Linked DNA regions of Homo sapiens: region 2 is linked to region 1. The links come from fine-mapping of genetic effects on gene expression. Tissue or cell type: whole blood. Region 1 holds a variant in brackets; the other region holds the start of a gene. All regions are shown on one strand. Distances are between the middles of the regions.

The links. PIP is the estimated chance that this variant, and not a neighbour inherited with it, causes the effect.
Region 2: GDF10 starts here. The variant in region 1 is fine-mapped to the expression of GDF10 in whole blood (TOPMed, PIP above 0.99). The same link has a PIP of 0.9 or more in blood mononuclear cells.

Annotation. Positions count from the first base shown.
Region 1 is chr10:47,253,801-47,261,978 of GRCh38, forward strand. No RefSeq gene overlaps it. Among named protein-coding and RNA genes, the nearest start is that of GDF10, 42 kb to the right of the region's middle. RefSeq lists a silencer at 7,735-7,784. The variant C/G (reference allele first, on the strand shown) is at 4,172.
Region 2 is chr10:47,295,347-47,303,524 of GRCh38, forward strand. GDF10 (growth differentiation factor 10) reads left to right here and starts at 4,851. Exons shown (of 3, transcript NM_004962.5): 1 at 4,851-5,624. The coding sequence starts at 5,306.

The DNA.
Region 1 (8,178 bases):
CTCTGGCCTGGCGATATTTTGAGATCCGACTCCATGATGGACTGATGTGACAGCTTTGTTCTCTAGGGCCCTTTTGATTTGTGAATCTCCCTTTGTGGTTTGCTAGGGATGCTCAGACCCTGCTGTTTCTGGGCTCCAGCGACCTCTCGCTCAGCTGGGCAGGCGGGGCCGGCTACAGCGGGGGTGGCAGACAGCGAGTGGGAGCAGCAGGGCTCAGTGAGGACTGAGCCACCACCGGCCTGGGCAGCTAGAGCTGCACTTCCAGGCTGTGTTAGACTGACTGGGTGGTCGTGGAAGAATGATAAGTGCCTGCTCAGAGCCAGCTATGCATGGCCAGATCGCAAACCACAGGGCTGCCCTGCTGGGCTTGGGCCTGGGCCCAGAGCTCTCTAGAGCATCTGGGGAGGCATGGGGGTGGACCCGGAGGCTTCTGGAGACCTGCAAGGCAGCCAGCCCTTGGGAAAGAGCACTTGGGGCCTGGGACAGCCGGGCTAGCCGGAAGACTCAGAGCCAGTCAGCAGGGTCCGTGGGACCTCATTTGTGGCACCTGCATTGAAGGCAGGCAGGGATACAGAGGAGAAAGGGCTTCAGAGCCAAAGACAACTAACTGGGTTCAAATCCCAGCTCTGCTCTGGCCGGGGCTGGGGCCGTGGGCAGCTTATTTGACTTCTAATCCCTCACTGGGAAAATAGAATCATAATACCCATCTCTCCAAGCTTTGAAAGGTTTCATGTGAGCATTAACACACACAGATGTGCTCAGAATTCTATCTGCCCAGAAAATATAGTCCTCTACCCCTCTCTAATACACACACACACACGCACACACACCACATTCCTCCAGCTGTCTGCCTCCTTCTGTGGTCCCTGGGGTAGGAATGACTTGTTCTCAGTTTCTTTCTGGCCAGGTGTCCCTCCATACTCAGTTCCATGGATTCTCTTCCCAAGATTGATGTGTTCTCAGATAAAGGTGAGCCAGTTTCCAGCCACCTGCCTGAGGGCAGCTGAATTCACACAGACACACACACACACAGACATACAGACACACACACACACACACACACACACACACTGCTGACTCCCAACACTAGCTCAGCAAATATTACTTAACAGGGCCTTTTTAGGTTGCTGAAAATTTCATGGTCACAGATGTTCCTTCCAGTTAAACAGTAAGCTGCTACTGGGCAAAGCTTCGTACAAAAGAGGGAAAATGCAGACCTCAAACCGAGTTTTGCTAAATGAAAGAAGGAGGAGATGGGAACTAAGGAGCTTTGCAGATCCAGCAAGATGTGACATGACCCAGGGTTTCAGGGTTTCAGCCCCAAGGCCACCACCACTTAGAGGAGATAGCACTAGAGTGTGTCCTTATGATGCAAGATCTGGGTTGGAAGAGGCCTCATGTGTCACCCTTCCCTAGCATCATGTGATGCAGGACATCCCCAGCAGCAGCTAGAGACACTTGCCTCGGGACCCAACCAGGGACGCAAACGCACTCCCCTTTGGGCAGCTCTCAGTGCTAACAAGTCCTCTGACTGGTGAAAACCTGTAGCAACTGAACCTTATTCCGCTGCCTGGGCCACGTAATACAGATCTGCTTCCTGTTCCTCAAGACAAGATGAGGACCCTTTACAGATTGAATGAGTCTTCTCATTCCCAAAATAAACCACGAACCATCAGCCCACTTTTTCTGGCAGGGAAGAGTCCCAAGGGTCCCACTCTCTTCTGCAGTAAAGGACAATGCATCACTTTACAACAGGATAAGACGGCTCTGGGGAGCCTCTAGGGAGCCCGTGCTGAAAACCCTCCCCTGGGCTACCTCACCTCAGCAGCTGGGGTGCTCTATGTGGTCCTGCCAAGGGCCGGGGACTGGCCTGGTGTCTGGGAGCCTTGTCTTCACTGCCCAATCATGGCGGCTTTGATCCCATGACTCTCAGCTTTTCCATCAGAATTCAGAGGGCAATAATAGCAACTGCTTGCTTGTAAAGTGCTTGGAGCTCAGAGGAGAAAAGGTGTCAGACAAGTGTAAAATGTTACTACTGGCACAGGCCAGAGGATGGAATGGAAAATCCCAGCAGAAATTGGGAACTCAGAGGAAGCCATTTGTCAGCTCCTCTGAACAAATGGATACAGGAAAAGGGGCCTTCCTCTGGCAGCCAGGCACAGCCCAGGTCAGCTGGAGGGGCTGGAGGAGATGCAGGTGAACATGAACTGTCCTGCCTTCTGACATCAACTACTGATTTAGCAGCCATGCCTTCCACCTCAAGACCAGCTGTCCATTGCACACCCTAGGCAGGGCTGCCAGCGGATGAGCCCAGGTACCCAGAGCTCCAAGCAGTCAGCTCAGCCCTCAGAAGCCTCCTGGAGAAGAGGACTGCAGGAACTAACCCACTGTAGCAGCCATCTGGAAGAACCAGCCCAGTTCTCAAACAAGGGTGCACCAGGCAGAAGAGCCAGTCAGCATGTAGCCGTGAAGACTGGGAAGGGCAGAGGGAAGAGGCACGAAGCACCTAGATGACGCGATGAACTAAGGAAAACTTTTAAAGCACTCTAATTGCTGTTCTCAGAAATTCAGGAAACGTATACATTCATTAAAGAATCTTCTGGCAATACATCTTCTTAGACATTATAAGTGTGACCCACCAATTCCTGTCTTCAAAGTGATCATCAGTAAATGAACTGAAAGATAAAGTCAAGGAAATCTGTCAGAACGTAGGGTAAGAAGACAAGGAGAAAGAACTTCAGATTAAAGTGACTCACATATCTTGTTAGGATTAATGAAAAAATAAAACCATCTAACATTTTAAAACATGAAGAATAAAGAGAAAATCAGAAACATGAGACAGAAAACATCATCACCTACTAATAAGTAAGACTGGCATCTCATTAACGAAACTTACTGTGACTACATTGTTGAAATTCCAAAACCTAGAATTTGACAGTCTCACAATCACAGTGGGAGATTTTAGCACCTACTGTAACTTCATCACACCTATGTGGTTCAACTTTTATGAAACCAAGTTGTGAGTTGTTTTCAGGTTACCATGGGCCCCCAGATTGAAGGTGATGTAATCTGAGCGTGCTCAGGCGAACCAAATGGACAGCCACAGGAGGAACCTCAGGGCTGGGACTGAGAAATTGGGACTGAACTGAGAAGCAGACACTGCCTGGCAGGAGCCAGGATCCAATCAGAGGAAGCTCTGGTATCACCCCATGGCAGGATCCAGTAAGATCATGCCTCCTGGCACCACCTCATTGCAAGATCCAATCAGATCACACCTCATTACCCTATGCTTATAAAGCCTGACCCAAACCCCTGCTCGAGGAGACAGGTTTGAGAGTTTTCTCTTGCCTTCTTGCCCATTAAGCAGCTTTATTGCTGTTTTTCTTTTCTCAAAAGCTGGTGCCATGGCATTGGCCTCTATGTGAATTGGACACCAAGCCCATTGATCGCTTGGTAACAATACCATGTTCCTAGATGGGAGGACTTAATATTATTAGGATACCAATTCCCCCCAAATGAACACAAATATTAGATTTTTCTCCTTGACTCTTGACAGTGAAAGCTTGCGTATGAACAATTAAAGACTCCCACTGAGGATTCTGAATCTGAAACTCATACTGCAAAGAATCAGGGGATACTTTAGAATTCACTCTAGTTATGGTGATGGTGATGGTGGAGATGCCAGAGGAGGGGATGGAGGGGAAGTGGCGGGAGGTGCTGGTGTTATGGGGGTGGTGGTGGAGGAGCAGGTGGTGGAGGTGATGGTAGGATGGCAGCACCCAGCACCCAGAGTCTAGTGTAGACAATAGCAGCAGAATCAGAACAGCCTCTTGGCAGCAAGCGTCCAGGGCAATGTCTCCAGTGGCACCATTTGGCTTGTTTTTGGCTCTCTGGCATCCCTCTATCCTGGCCTTTTGTCCAAGGGTTGCTTCTAAACACTACAATCTCTTACTAAGACATCCGTTATCCTTCTAAGTCTCTTTGCTGCCTATGTTTAATAAAGTAAGTTTCTATTGCTTACAACCAAGAACTCTGGGACAATGAGTCTTCCAATCTTGAGTAAAGGAAGTATTTTGTAAGCAAGGCAGGAAACCAGAAATATTGTTTTAAAAGCAGAAGACTGACTAATTTAACCACAAAACTTGAAACAACTCAATAGGAAAAGTGAAAG[C/G]GCCAAGTTCTTAAGGGTCACAGCACAGAAGAAAGAGGAAGGCTGGTAAACATAGAATAAGATGCTCATTCTCACAAATCTTCAGATGGAAAAAATGAAATTCCATTTTTCCCTTTAGGTTAGCACAAAAATACATAAATGATACATAATATCCAAGGTGTGACTGGGTGGGAAAATGGGGTCTCTTACAAAGCACTGGACAATGCAAAGAGGTGACATTTTCAGCTGAATTGAAGGGTATCTCCCAGCATTCGAGGTGAGAGTTTTCTCTACTCAAAAATGTTATTTCTCAGTATTTATCTTAATAGAAATACTTGCACAAAAGCATGAAAATATTAATAGCTGACTTATTTATAGCAGCCCCAAAGTGTAGGCAATCTAAATAGTATCAACAGGGGATAATATTTACTTCCAAAATAACCAAAATATGGAACAAAACAAAATATGGAAAACTGAGGAGGAAGTAAAAAGTGTTTAATGGAACTATATTTACTGATCTAAAAGGCTCCTTGGTTTGGTTTATTCTTTTTTTTTTTTTTTTTGAGTTAGGATCTCACTCTGGTGCCCAGGCTGGAGTGCAGTGCCATGATCTCGGCTCACTATAAACTCTGCCTCCTGGGCTCAAGTGATCCTCTCACCTCAGCCTCCCCAGTAGCTGGGACCACAGGCATGTCCACCCAGCCAAGCTAATTTTTGTAGAGATGGGGTCTTGCTATGTTACCCAGGCTGGTCTCAAACTCCTGGGCTCAAGCGATCCTCCCACCTTGGCCTCCCAAAATTCTGGGATTACAGGTATGCACCACCTCGCCCGGCTGGTTTATTCCTTAGTGAAAAGGTGATTGCAAAGCACTCTATATGGTATGATTCAATTTCTCTTTTAAATTTGTTTGAATTGCAAGGAGGTGGGTACGTTCAAGTTAGACTTTATATACCTCTGTAACAAGCAATATTGTAAAACCAGCATGTTTTGCTTTTCCAGTTTCTAAGCAAAACTAAAAGTAAAAAGGAATTGGAGTCCATGGGATACACCTTTCATGGTAAATTAGTAGCAGTGTTTCTCGTTTGTCCTGAATCCTTGTGAACCTGCTGGGGGTCCTAGCTAGTCTTGGTGTAGGCTGGACCTTGGGCTGTGCCCTATGCCTTCCTGCTAGGGGAGTTGAAGAAGGACAGGAGGAGGCATGAAACATGCCTGGTTTCATCCCATGGCTTCAGGAAAATCACTCCAGAGCCTAGATCAAGTTAATAGGAGAAACACTGCAAAGAGTAATATAGCTACCTATATTACGGACAGATGAAAAGGTATTTATTTGACCCAGTAAGTACAATCTACCATGCCTGCGGCACATCCTGAAGGAATATTACTGGGGGCCTGACTGCATGACTGCTCTTTGATTTATGGAGCCAAAGTGAATGAAAGGCAGGGTCAATACAACTGCCTTTCGGCTCCACTTTCCATTCCATTTCATAGAGCAGGTGAAAAGATATGCCTGCCTATAACAGGACTGGGTGAAACTCAGGAACCTCCAATGGAACATTTGCATGTCTGTGTCAGTGGGCATTTCTGTCATCCAAGAGGGGACTTCCATCTGAGGTGGCTTTTGAGGCAGGAGCATAGCTCCGTCAGGAGGAGGCCTGAGCTAAATGCACATTGTCCATGCTGGGAGCTTTCTGGGCAGGGCTCAGGGGGACGGGTTGAGGGGGCTTGTCTAGGAGCTGGATTTCTGAAACGTGATACATGGCTCCTGTTTCCAGTGGATCAGCCTGCCTTTCAGAACCTACAGGAGACTGTACTTCCAAGAAACAAGTGCTTTCCTGAGGGACTAATCTGCCTGCCCCCCACTTGAGTGCTGACACCAAGGCTGAAGGCAAATCCCGGCTGGAAGACGAGGATGTAGTGGGCTTGGGTGTGAGACAGATTTGGTTTCAAACCATAACTTTGGGAAAGTCACTTCCCTGAACCTTGTTTTCTTCCTCTATAAAATGGGCACAATATTATCTTCTTCATGGAGCTGCTCTACAGATTCAGTGAAATAATGGATTTGTTTCCCAGGGCTGTTGTAAGACAGCACCACAAACTGGGTGGCTTAGACAACAGACGTTTATTGTAGCACAATTGTGGGGGCTGGAAGTTTGAGATTAAGGTGCTGGTAAGTTTTGTTCCTCCTGAGGGCTGTGAGAGAGAATATGTTCCAAGATTTTCTCTGAGTTTCTGGTGGTTGATTTCAATGTTTAGTATTCCTAGGCTTGTAGAAGCTTCACCTGGATCTCTGCCTTTATCTTCACATGTTATTTTCCTTCTATGTTTGTCTGTGTCCAAATTTCCCCTTTTTATAAGGACTCCAGTCATATTGGATTATCAGCCTACCTTAATGACCTGTAATGACCCTATTTCCAAATAACGTCCCATTCTGAGGTAGTTAGGGTTAGGACTTCAACATATGAGTGAGGGGAGGCACAGTTTAACCCAGAGCAAGTGGCACATGTAAAGTGACTGGTGTAACATAGCTCCTGAATGAATAGTAGCTCTCTTTGTCCACCAAGTCCCCCCTTGCCAGCATCTAGACGGAAAGAGGCAATGAAGGTGGAAGAGGGAAGCCACATATGTCTCAGTGGGTTCTTTAGGTTGGGAGTCACCCACCCCACACAGCTTCTGCCCAGTCTCTCCCACTCCAAGAGCCCATCCATCAGTTCGTTTGGCCAGCAGGCAGCAGCATTTCCCCAGAGCCCCAGGAGCTCTTGTCTGCTGTCGTTTGCTGATAAGCCAATGCTTGCTGACGCGTGTCCTGATTTCAGAGTGTGTCTGCCTCTCTCCTCATCCTGTGGCCATGCTATGGTAGCTGAGAGCAGGGATCTGCCACTCCATCGCTGTGCACCTTTGACCCAGCTGGGGTCTCACAGAGATAGTCTCTAGTGAAGGTTTGAAGGATGTAGAAAAGAAGGAACAGCAGCTTCAATAACAAGATTGTCATAAATTTGTTTAATATAATCGCTGCCTCAGCATCCATTTTTATGCCTGACATAAGCTGTTTGGAACTCAGTTGTACCCAGTCGCCTTTAGACTCAGAACTTCCTCTCCCCGTGTGGCTGTTCCTCATCCCACTGACCCAAAATCCAATACCTGACCATAATAACACCAAATGGTCATGCCAGAGTCAGGAAAATAAGTCCCCACTTCAAGAGTGTTTTCTTTAAACCAGTCAGTCCACAACCCCAAAGGAAAGCCTAAGGATAATGCCCATGAGTCTTAATAAAAGCAGAGTCCCACAAGTGTTCTCTCTTCCTCACCCACTGGGTAAGCTGCCTGCCACCTCCTGACTTCCTGTAGGCCTCTAGTGTGCAACCATCTGCTGTGAGGCCTGTGAGTGAAATGTTTTCCCTGTTTCATGCATTCTGGTTTCACTTCTTCACTGTGTCTAACCTGACACACACACCTGAACCTAATTTCCCCCATCAGAGCTCCACTAGAGAGTGGCTGTCTGGGCTCACGGCCACTCTCAAGAGACACCACAAGACCCAGTGGAAAGAAACTAGCAATACAAATCACAACAAAAGGGGGACCTGTTCAAATGCCTGCCTCCGCACCCCGCTCCCGCCCCACCCCCACCCTGCCCCCCAGCCATCTCGCTCTAGAAATCCCCCACCATGTGCAAAGAGATCCTGTCTCTCTGGGCATCAGCATAGAGGACCGCTGGCCAAGCCACCAAGCACTTGGCTCACATAATAAACCAAAACCTGTTAAAGCTCCGTGCTACTTGAAAAGGACAAAAAGACAAATGTATGTAGAACAGGGTCCAGGCTGACCTCAGTTCCCATGGGAGATAGCAACATGCCATCAGCAACTGTTCCCAAGCAAAGCAGCAGGCACTGGCCATAGGAGACAGCCTGGGCTCAGAAGGCTGTGGGGGAGGACCTGGCTCCTGCTCTGTCTACCTTTGTGTCTTGGGTTCCAAATATATTCTGTAGAAATTCCAGATATCACTCAATCTCAGAACCTCCATGTCTGAGTC
Region 2 (8,178 bases), 42 kb after region 1:
GGTAGGGACTCTGAGATCGAAATTTGAGTGCATAAGTATATGGGAGAGTGCTAGGGGGACCACACCAATAAGGGAGCTGAGGGACTAGGATAACCAGAGAGAGAAGCTAAATGACACAGTGGTATAGACAGCCTCGGAGCCAGGTGGCCCTACAGTGTTTTCCAGGCCCCTGCACCTAGTCACTGGCTTTGGCTGCCCCCGGAGTGTGAGATAACTTGAGTGAGGCCGCTCCTGTCGGCCTTCCTGAGGAAGGGCTCCACTGTGAGCCCTCAGCAGACAGAAGTCCTGGCAGCTGAGGCCATGAATGTCTGGGTGCTGGCAACAGGGGAATTAGCTACAGCCACCTTAAAGCCATGGGGAGGGGCCTGGGATGAGAACCCAAGGAATGAAGCTGCTCTAAATTCTGGGACAGGAGAGGACGCATAGGAACAGAGGCTGGAGAAAGACTCCACCAGGACAGAGAGGCCAGATGGTTAGGGCTTAAATGCCAGGACAAGGACAGAAGGCTTTATCCATCCTGTGAAGGAGAGTAGTCAAAGGTTTTGAGCAAGATTATTTGGGGGTGATAAGGAGACTGCGAAGCCACAAAGGGGTCCTAATTTTCAAAGTGTCCCCTTGGCCACCTCTCCCATAGACTCCTCTTAACTGGCTGGCTCCGGCCAACTCTCTCTCCCTCTCTCTCTCTCTCTCTCACACACACACACACACACACACACACACACATACACACACACACACACCACTGCCCTCCTCCCCCAAATCGGTTCCCTTCAAATTGTCACTCCCCACAGTGCTGCATTCATGCATCAGTTCTAAATAGCCCCACTGTTCAGCTTTAAAGAGAAGTAATACCAATTCCCATGTTTGCTCAGAGAGCACCATATTTCATCAAACCAGAGGCCATGCCGGCTCAGATTACTGACCGAGACAATGTTCTGTAATCCTAGTTTATTCACATGTCACGGGTATTTTAGCAAAACAGAAATGAATGGCCCCCACCACCCTAGGAAGTAACGGGAGAGTTGGGTCCCCGCCCAGGGGAAGTCATGCTTTCGCTTGCCACGGTTCTCAGAGGAGCCGACTTTGATTTTCTGAGCTTTTCCCAACTTTAAGAAAGAGAATATGGGCTGAGGAGGAGTCACAAAGTGGGTAGTTATTTCCCTGTAAAATGTTAACTCCACAGATGGATTTTGCCAGAGCAAAAATAAAATCTGTCATTGATTATAAAGTCCTTTGTGCTTGTTATTTCACAGATTTATTACACTCTGGCCCCGCGGCCTGGGGAGGCCCTGGGGTTCCTGTCTCTAGCACCCCACAGCTCATGCCCCAACCGGAATAGGGACTCACTTGCATTTCTTTTGTCCTTAAGGGCCAGGAGCTTTGAAAATCTAGATGAAGAGCTGTGAATCTTCCTCCCAATCTTTGGACAAGAACCCGCAGACACAGACAATAACAGCATAACAGTTCCTTGGTAGAGGTCTGTGACTTCCTCATCAAGGAAACATTCCTTTTCTCTTTCCTTTTTTTTTTTTTTTTTTTAGTTGTTGGCACTGTGCACTAAGAAACGAATTTTCTCTGCAGAGTAAGGAACAGCCAGGCTTGAAACTCTCACCAAATCTGCCAGTCTGGGTCTACTTTAAATGTGCTACAACTTCTTTCAAACACACAATAAATGAAAAGACCAATCTGAATGATCAGTGCAATTTAGTTAGTATCATGTCACTTTAAAATCTGGCCAAGAATCCTCATACTATCCTGCTCTTGTCCCCATCTTAGAGTTGAAAAAACTGAGGTCCAGAGAAGGCAAGTAACTTGCTTAACATCACACAGCTAAGTAGCAGTGAAAATAGGGACATGAATCTAGTCCCAATTGACTCCACAGGGTCATGGGAGCACCCTCACTTCCAAGAACATGTTGACATGGGGCCACAGAACCAGCGGGAGAGTACAGGAGCTACAGCAGAGCCTGGAGGCCAGACTTCTCACTTAAAGAAGAGGCTCCTAGGATTCCAGAGAGGCAATGGGGCTGCCCCAGGGTTACAGAGCTAGTTAAAATCACACACTAGCTCTGCTACAAATTAACTGGACGATATCATGAAACAATCGCTTGGGAACATTTATTTGGGGAGAGGTTCTTGATGAAACCAAATGAGCTTGCTTTTCAAAACTACCCAGGGTTTGTTTTACTTCCTTACTTGGGTGCAGAGCTTCATAACTATGGAGTCTCTTCACTCCTTGCTCATGACTTTCTGAGCTGAAGAAAACCCTGCTATCCCAGAGTGCACAGCAAGGAGGCCTAGAGGACTGAGGGCCCCCAAACTACTTCTCACCTGTCTGGAGAGAACACTGTTCACTCCAATCAGCAAGTTCAAGACCTCAGCACCCCTGGCAATTGCAGTGTACGGAACTCCCAGAACCATGATAATTTTGTAGGAAGCTGTCAGAAATCACAGATCCAAGGACTTGTCTCCACAATCTGCCATCTCAACTCTTATTCTGAGCTGCGGCCTGAGCTATTAAAAACAAAACATTCTCGTGGGCAAGCTCCACAATTAGCCTCATTTCCACACTAGAAAAACTGTTCTGCATGAGCTGAAATTGCACAGAGATTGTTTCTTGTCATAGTGATGCTGTTTCAAGGGCCGTGCTGAGAGCCAGCGAGGATGTGACCCAGTGGTAATCTGAATTGCTTCACCAAACACATTTTTATCCCATCATCTCGGCTACATGAAAGGGGGCCACAGTGCTCGTGTTCAAGGCTTTACAGTCCCGCTGTTCAGCAATAAAATGAGGCAAGAAATATTAGCCATCCCTGGCTGATGCCTTAATTCTTTCCCAACAATGTCAGAGAATCTGTACCCTACAGGTTTTAGTGCTGGCTAAAGCCTGACCCTCAGGCTGGCTTGAATGGAGCGGGAATGAGTTAAGGAGAGCCAGAAGGCTTTAATGGACACGGATTCCAAATAGCCCAGCTTGTGCGGGCCTCCTGCGGACTCACCCTCCTTTTCAACAGGCCTCGATTGTGTATGGCCCCAACAGACACAAAACTACCCATGAGCAGAGGTTACCCCCAGCCGGTGCAGGTCAGAGGCATTCTGGGGGGGAAGGGGAGAGGGGGACAGAGGGGAAGTGAGGGGCACATGGAGAAGGAGGGAAATGGGGGTGGGAGTGGGGGAAGGGACCACTGAAAGATGGTCTGGATCATTTATAAGGAGAGATTCACTAAGTCCCAGGCTGAGACCCGATCATCTCACTTCCAGGCAAACCATTTTTGAAAACTGGTTCAGAACAAATGGGAGCTATCCTAATGGGAAGTTGAACACACTGTGATCTAATTTTCAAAACAAATAAAATGCTTTTCTCTGGTTTTCCAAAAGCTACAAGTCTGAGGTTCAGAAGCTCTTAATAGGATGGCCTCTAATTTGACACTGCAAGATTTTAAAAAATTACAAATGGGTCATGTTTTACACACCAACAGAAGCCTTTTCCAGCAATTTTTCAATTATTGCATTGTGAGCCCTCCAAGAAAAGTAACTATTTTGGCTCACAGAGCCCAAAGTTACCAAGTAAAGGGAACAGCCTGTTCACAAGTTTGCAAATAGTCCTTTGAAATGTAGCATAGACTGTATCTGGGAGCTTTCTGGAAGAACATGGGCTTGACGTGGTCCTTTCCTTCCCTCTCAAGGGTCCTTAAACTTTTTAGGTGGGTCTTGGGCCCCCTTCTAAGTCTAGGGAAGCCAGTGGACCCCTTCTTAAAAGAATGTTTTTAAATGCATAAAATAAAATATGCAGAGTTACAAAGGAAGACAATTACGTTAGAATAGAGTTATCACAAATATTTAAAAACAATTTTGTAACATAGTAACTATGTTCCTTTTTGCTAACTAACTAGCAGTAGGCCTAACTGAAGTGGTAATGAGCAAACATGATACTTTGATGAATCCGCAACCACTCTCATGTGATATGAAAATATCTGTGGATGGTGCCTATTGGTGACAAAGTCACTAATACCACTGTGGTTGGTTGCTTGCATTTATAACATTAGTTAATGCTAAGTTTCAGTTAGAGTTAATGAAAATAAAGATGTATTTTTTTCCCCATCAAGTTCATAAGAGCCCTTGAATTCTATCAATGGAGAAGAAATCCTGCTAGAGGCAAGACAAAGATCAGGACCTTCTGCCCCAGGGTTAAGCTGAGGGGCAGTGGGCCAGGGACTCACTACACCCTCACTTCACTGGGAATCCTTCTTAGGAAAGCCACTGCTTTCTCTCTTCCTGCTCTGATGCTTTGGAAATGTTTTTAAAGGCAAATTGAAAGCATGTCTTATTCCTGCAATCCTGAAGGCCACATGTCCAAAGATTAATAAGGACCTTTGATGTGTTTCTTCAACAACTGAAATTACTCTCGTCAAATAAAGGGCTGGTTAATGAGCTAATTCTGAGTTTTAATCACGATCTTGTTCCAGTTCCCTTGGGTGGCATGAGCTTTGGGGTGAGGGCTTTTCTTTACGGAGTCAGCCCAGAGAGGATCTCTGTTCCCCACACTCTCACATTTTGGACATACGCTGACTCCGAGGCAACTGGGCGCACACATATCCCCTCTCTGGTCCTCACAGGGGAGCTGTCATCTTGCAATCACATAGCCATCGCATGCCATTGCAGGGGCAACCCAGCAGGCAGGCCCCCCTCCAACTGCCGCCCAGCCCCCCTCGCAGCCAGGGCAGGCTGCGGCGCCGACACACAGGAGCCGGCTGCGGGGCTGGGTCTCGGGCTCTCGGCTGGGGAGCGGGGAGCGCGCTCGCCCACGCCCCCCACACTCGCGGGCGCACACCCCGGCGCGCGCACGCTGCCACACACGGGCGCACGCACACGGCAGCCGGGCCAGGGACGACCCTGTCAGCTGCAGCCCCAGAGGTCCGGGGCGCGCAGCCGGGTCCCCTCGAGGGCGCAGCCGGCCGCCCCGCCCCGCCCCTCGAAGCAGCCGGGCCGGGCGCGCAGTGGGCTACAAACTTTCGCGGCGCGAGTCCGCCAAGGCAGCGCGCCGACTCGGGCTCGGCTCGGCTCTGCGCTGCTCCGGACGGCTGTGACCGCTGGCCGGGGGCTCGGGCCGCCGGTACCCACGGACCGCGCGCCCGGGTGCCTGCTCCGCTAAGCCCCTCGCCCCGCGCGGACCTCGGTATCCAGCGCCCTGCTGCCCGGGCTCTCCCCGCGCGCCCTACTGCCGCGAGGTCAGTCCGCAGCCTCCGGTGCGCCAGCGCTCGCCTTCCTCCTCCTGGACTTCGGCCCTTTGCCGCCCTCACCACGCCATGGCTCATGTCCCCGCTCGGACCAGCCCGGGACCCGGGCCCCAGCTGCTGCTGCTGCTGCTGCCGTTGTTTCTGCTGTTGCTCCGGGATGTGGCCGGCAGCCACAGGGCCCCCGCCTGGTCCGCACTGCCCGCGGCCGCCGACGGCCTGCAGGGGGACAGGGATCTCCAGCGGCACCCTGGGGACGCGGCCGCCACGTTGGGCCCCAGCGCCCAGGACATGGTCGCTGTCCACATGCACAGGCTCTATGAGAAGTACAGCCGGCAGGGCGCGCGGCCGGGAGGGGGCAACACGGTCCGCAGCTTCAGGGCCAGGCTGGGTAAGTAGAGGGTGCCCCAGGACCCCTTCTCCTCATTCTCCACCTTCCTCACTTTTCTGTCTCCCCACCCGTGCACCTCTACTTTTCCTCTTCTAGCCAACGGGTGAGTGGTTCATTCATTCTTTCACTAATGATTCACTGATCTCTCCATGCCAGGCCCTGAACCTCCAGTGGGGCACCAAGAGTGGCAGCAGGTGGCACAGAGGTCCTGCCCCTGGGGTGCTCCCACATTGCTGGACATACACAGACTACCCCATACACAAGGCTGTAAGCACAGAGAGTGGAAGAGGGGACATAGGCCAGGGGAGTATCCCTGTCATAGGGTCAATTATGTGGGCATTTTACAAATGAGAAGGGCACAGCCAGTGAACATAGGCAGCCCTGCAGAAGCTCCAGGCACTGGGCCCTGTCAGGAAGCAGGAGCCCCTAGCTGGCGTCAGCTATGGTTCCTGTGTCCAGGGAAGCAGAGTGGACTGAGAAGGGCCTTGGCTGCCCGGGATTGAGGACTTCCACGGACTGGCATGAAGCGTTCAGACCACAGGGGTTTAAGGAAAGGCCCAGGGGCTTAGGCAGTGGGAACACTCTGCCTATCTCCGGCCTCTGTCCCACCTTTCCACTTCCTCAGCCCCTTGGATGGAGCTGGGCAGAGGGCACTTGCAAAGGCCCATGCTGCCCTGTTCTGAGAGCACTTCCAGGCTCCTGCCTCAGCAGCCTGCCCACCTTTGCAGGCCCTGGGTAGAGAGGAGGTGCAGCCAGGGCCACAGGGGTGGTGAGAAGACCCTGGTTGTCATGGTGATTACTCCTGGTTGCAGAATAATGTTCCAGAAAATGTGGGTGGGGGTCTCCTGCAGCTCTGCAGAAGATGAGGCCATTCAACAGGAGAAAAATCTGCAGTCTACAGGCTCCCCTCCTGAGGGAGAGGGAAACAAGCCTAGCTGTGGAGCTAGACAGCCTGGGGTCAGATCTGTCACTGGCTGTGTGACTCAAGGTAACATCTGTGGCCTCTCATAACCATGGATTGGGGAGCACCTGCCACAAAGAGGCCCCATGCCCTCCTCCTCCACTTAGCAGACTCACCAGGTCAGTGGCCCTGGGCTCCAGGCCAATTGGATCTAACTCCATCCTCACTCATAACTTTCTTGCACCATGTGGGGTCCATTTCTTGAGGAACGTTATTAAATTAAACCATTTAAGAATCATCTGGCATGAACATGACCTTGGGTAAATCACTAAAGCTAGGTGGACTTGAGTGTATTCATCGATAAAATGGGCAAGGCTTGCCAATATCTCCCCTGTGCAGTTGAAGGGAAGATGAAATGAGGTCATATGTGCAAGCTCAGAGCCCAGCACTGGCCAGATTAAGTGTTGATGTACGGGATTCCCCTGGGAGCACAAATAATCGTGCTAAGTATTGTGTATTCCTGTGGGTTTAAACTTGACCTTGCTTCTCTATTAACTCAATCCTCAAAGCCTTGTAGTTGAGGAAGCAAGGCCAGCAGGGTCACTGCTGCGACACGGGTGAGCCTGCCCACTGAGCCCATCTACTTGCTGCAGCCAGGCATGGAGATGCCTTCTTGTGTCATTCTGTTTTCACAGAAAGGGGGTAGTACAAGTAGCAGTGGAGTTCAGGTTATTAATCTCAAAAAGGACCTGAAGACAGTATCTCAAATCCAGCACTCCCACTTTAAAGATAAGGAAACTGAGACTCAGTGGTTGTTCACAGTGGCAGGGGTTGGCAACTCCCATCTGCCAGGTCATTGCTGTTCTCACTGTCACTCCCCACACCCTGTCATCTCCCTCAGAGCTATGACCAGGGTCTGGGAGGGGTAGGGTGAAACAGACAAGCCTGGGAAATCAGGATTCTGGTAGTCTGGAGTGTCTGACAAATCCCTCTTCTTTGGAAGCCTGAGGCACATTTGGGTGTGAATCCCAGCTGTACCAGCTACCAGGTGTGTGCAGTGGCACAGGTTAGTTTACCTCTCTGAGCATCAGTTTCCTTGTAGTACAGTGAAGAAGTGAGGATTAAATGGGCTAAGCAGGTTTTGTGCTTTGCATACAGTGGGGGCCCAGGCAGGTTGCTTGATCCTCTCCTCCCTTGATTCATCTGAGTGTTTCATGCCAAGCCTCTTGCCTGCCCTCAGATGTGCCTACTTCCTGATCCAGTGACCTGTCTGAGGAGGTATGAGTTTGGGCAGGGACCCTTCTCTCATGGATGATGCCACCCATGTGGGAGGCTTCAGCTCTGGTCCGAGAACATGCCAGTCTCAGCCTGCTCCCCAGTGGTGGGTTTCTGCTGCCTCAGTGGGGCAGCACCTCTTCCTGAACAACAAATGCCTCCATCCCCACAGCCTGCGATACGTAACTATACCTCCCCCGCCACCGGGCAGTGCAGCTCAGCTGCCAAGTGCTGGCTGTGAGCTGGCCTCGTGGGGTCCAAATCCCAATTCTGCGATCTGGGCAAGGGACTGAACTTGTCCATGACTCAGTTTTTTTCACTTCTAAAATGGAGCTAATAGTGCTCCCCTCCTTATAGGATTTTTTTTAATGGAAACTG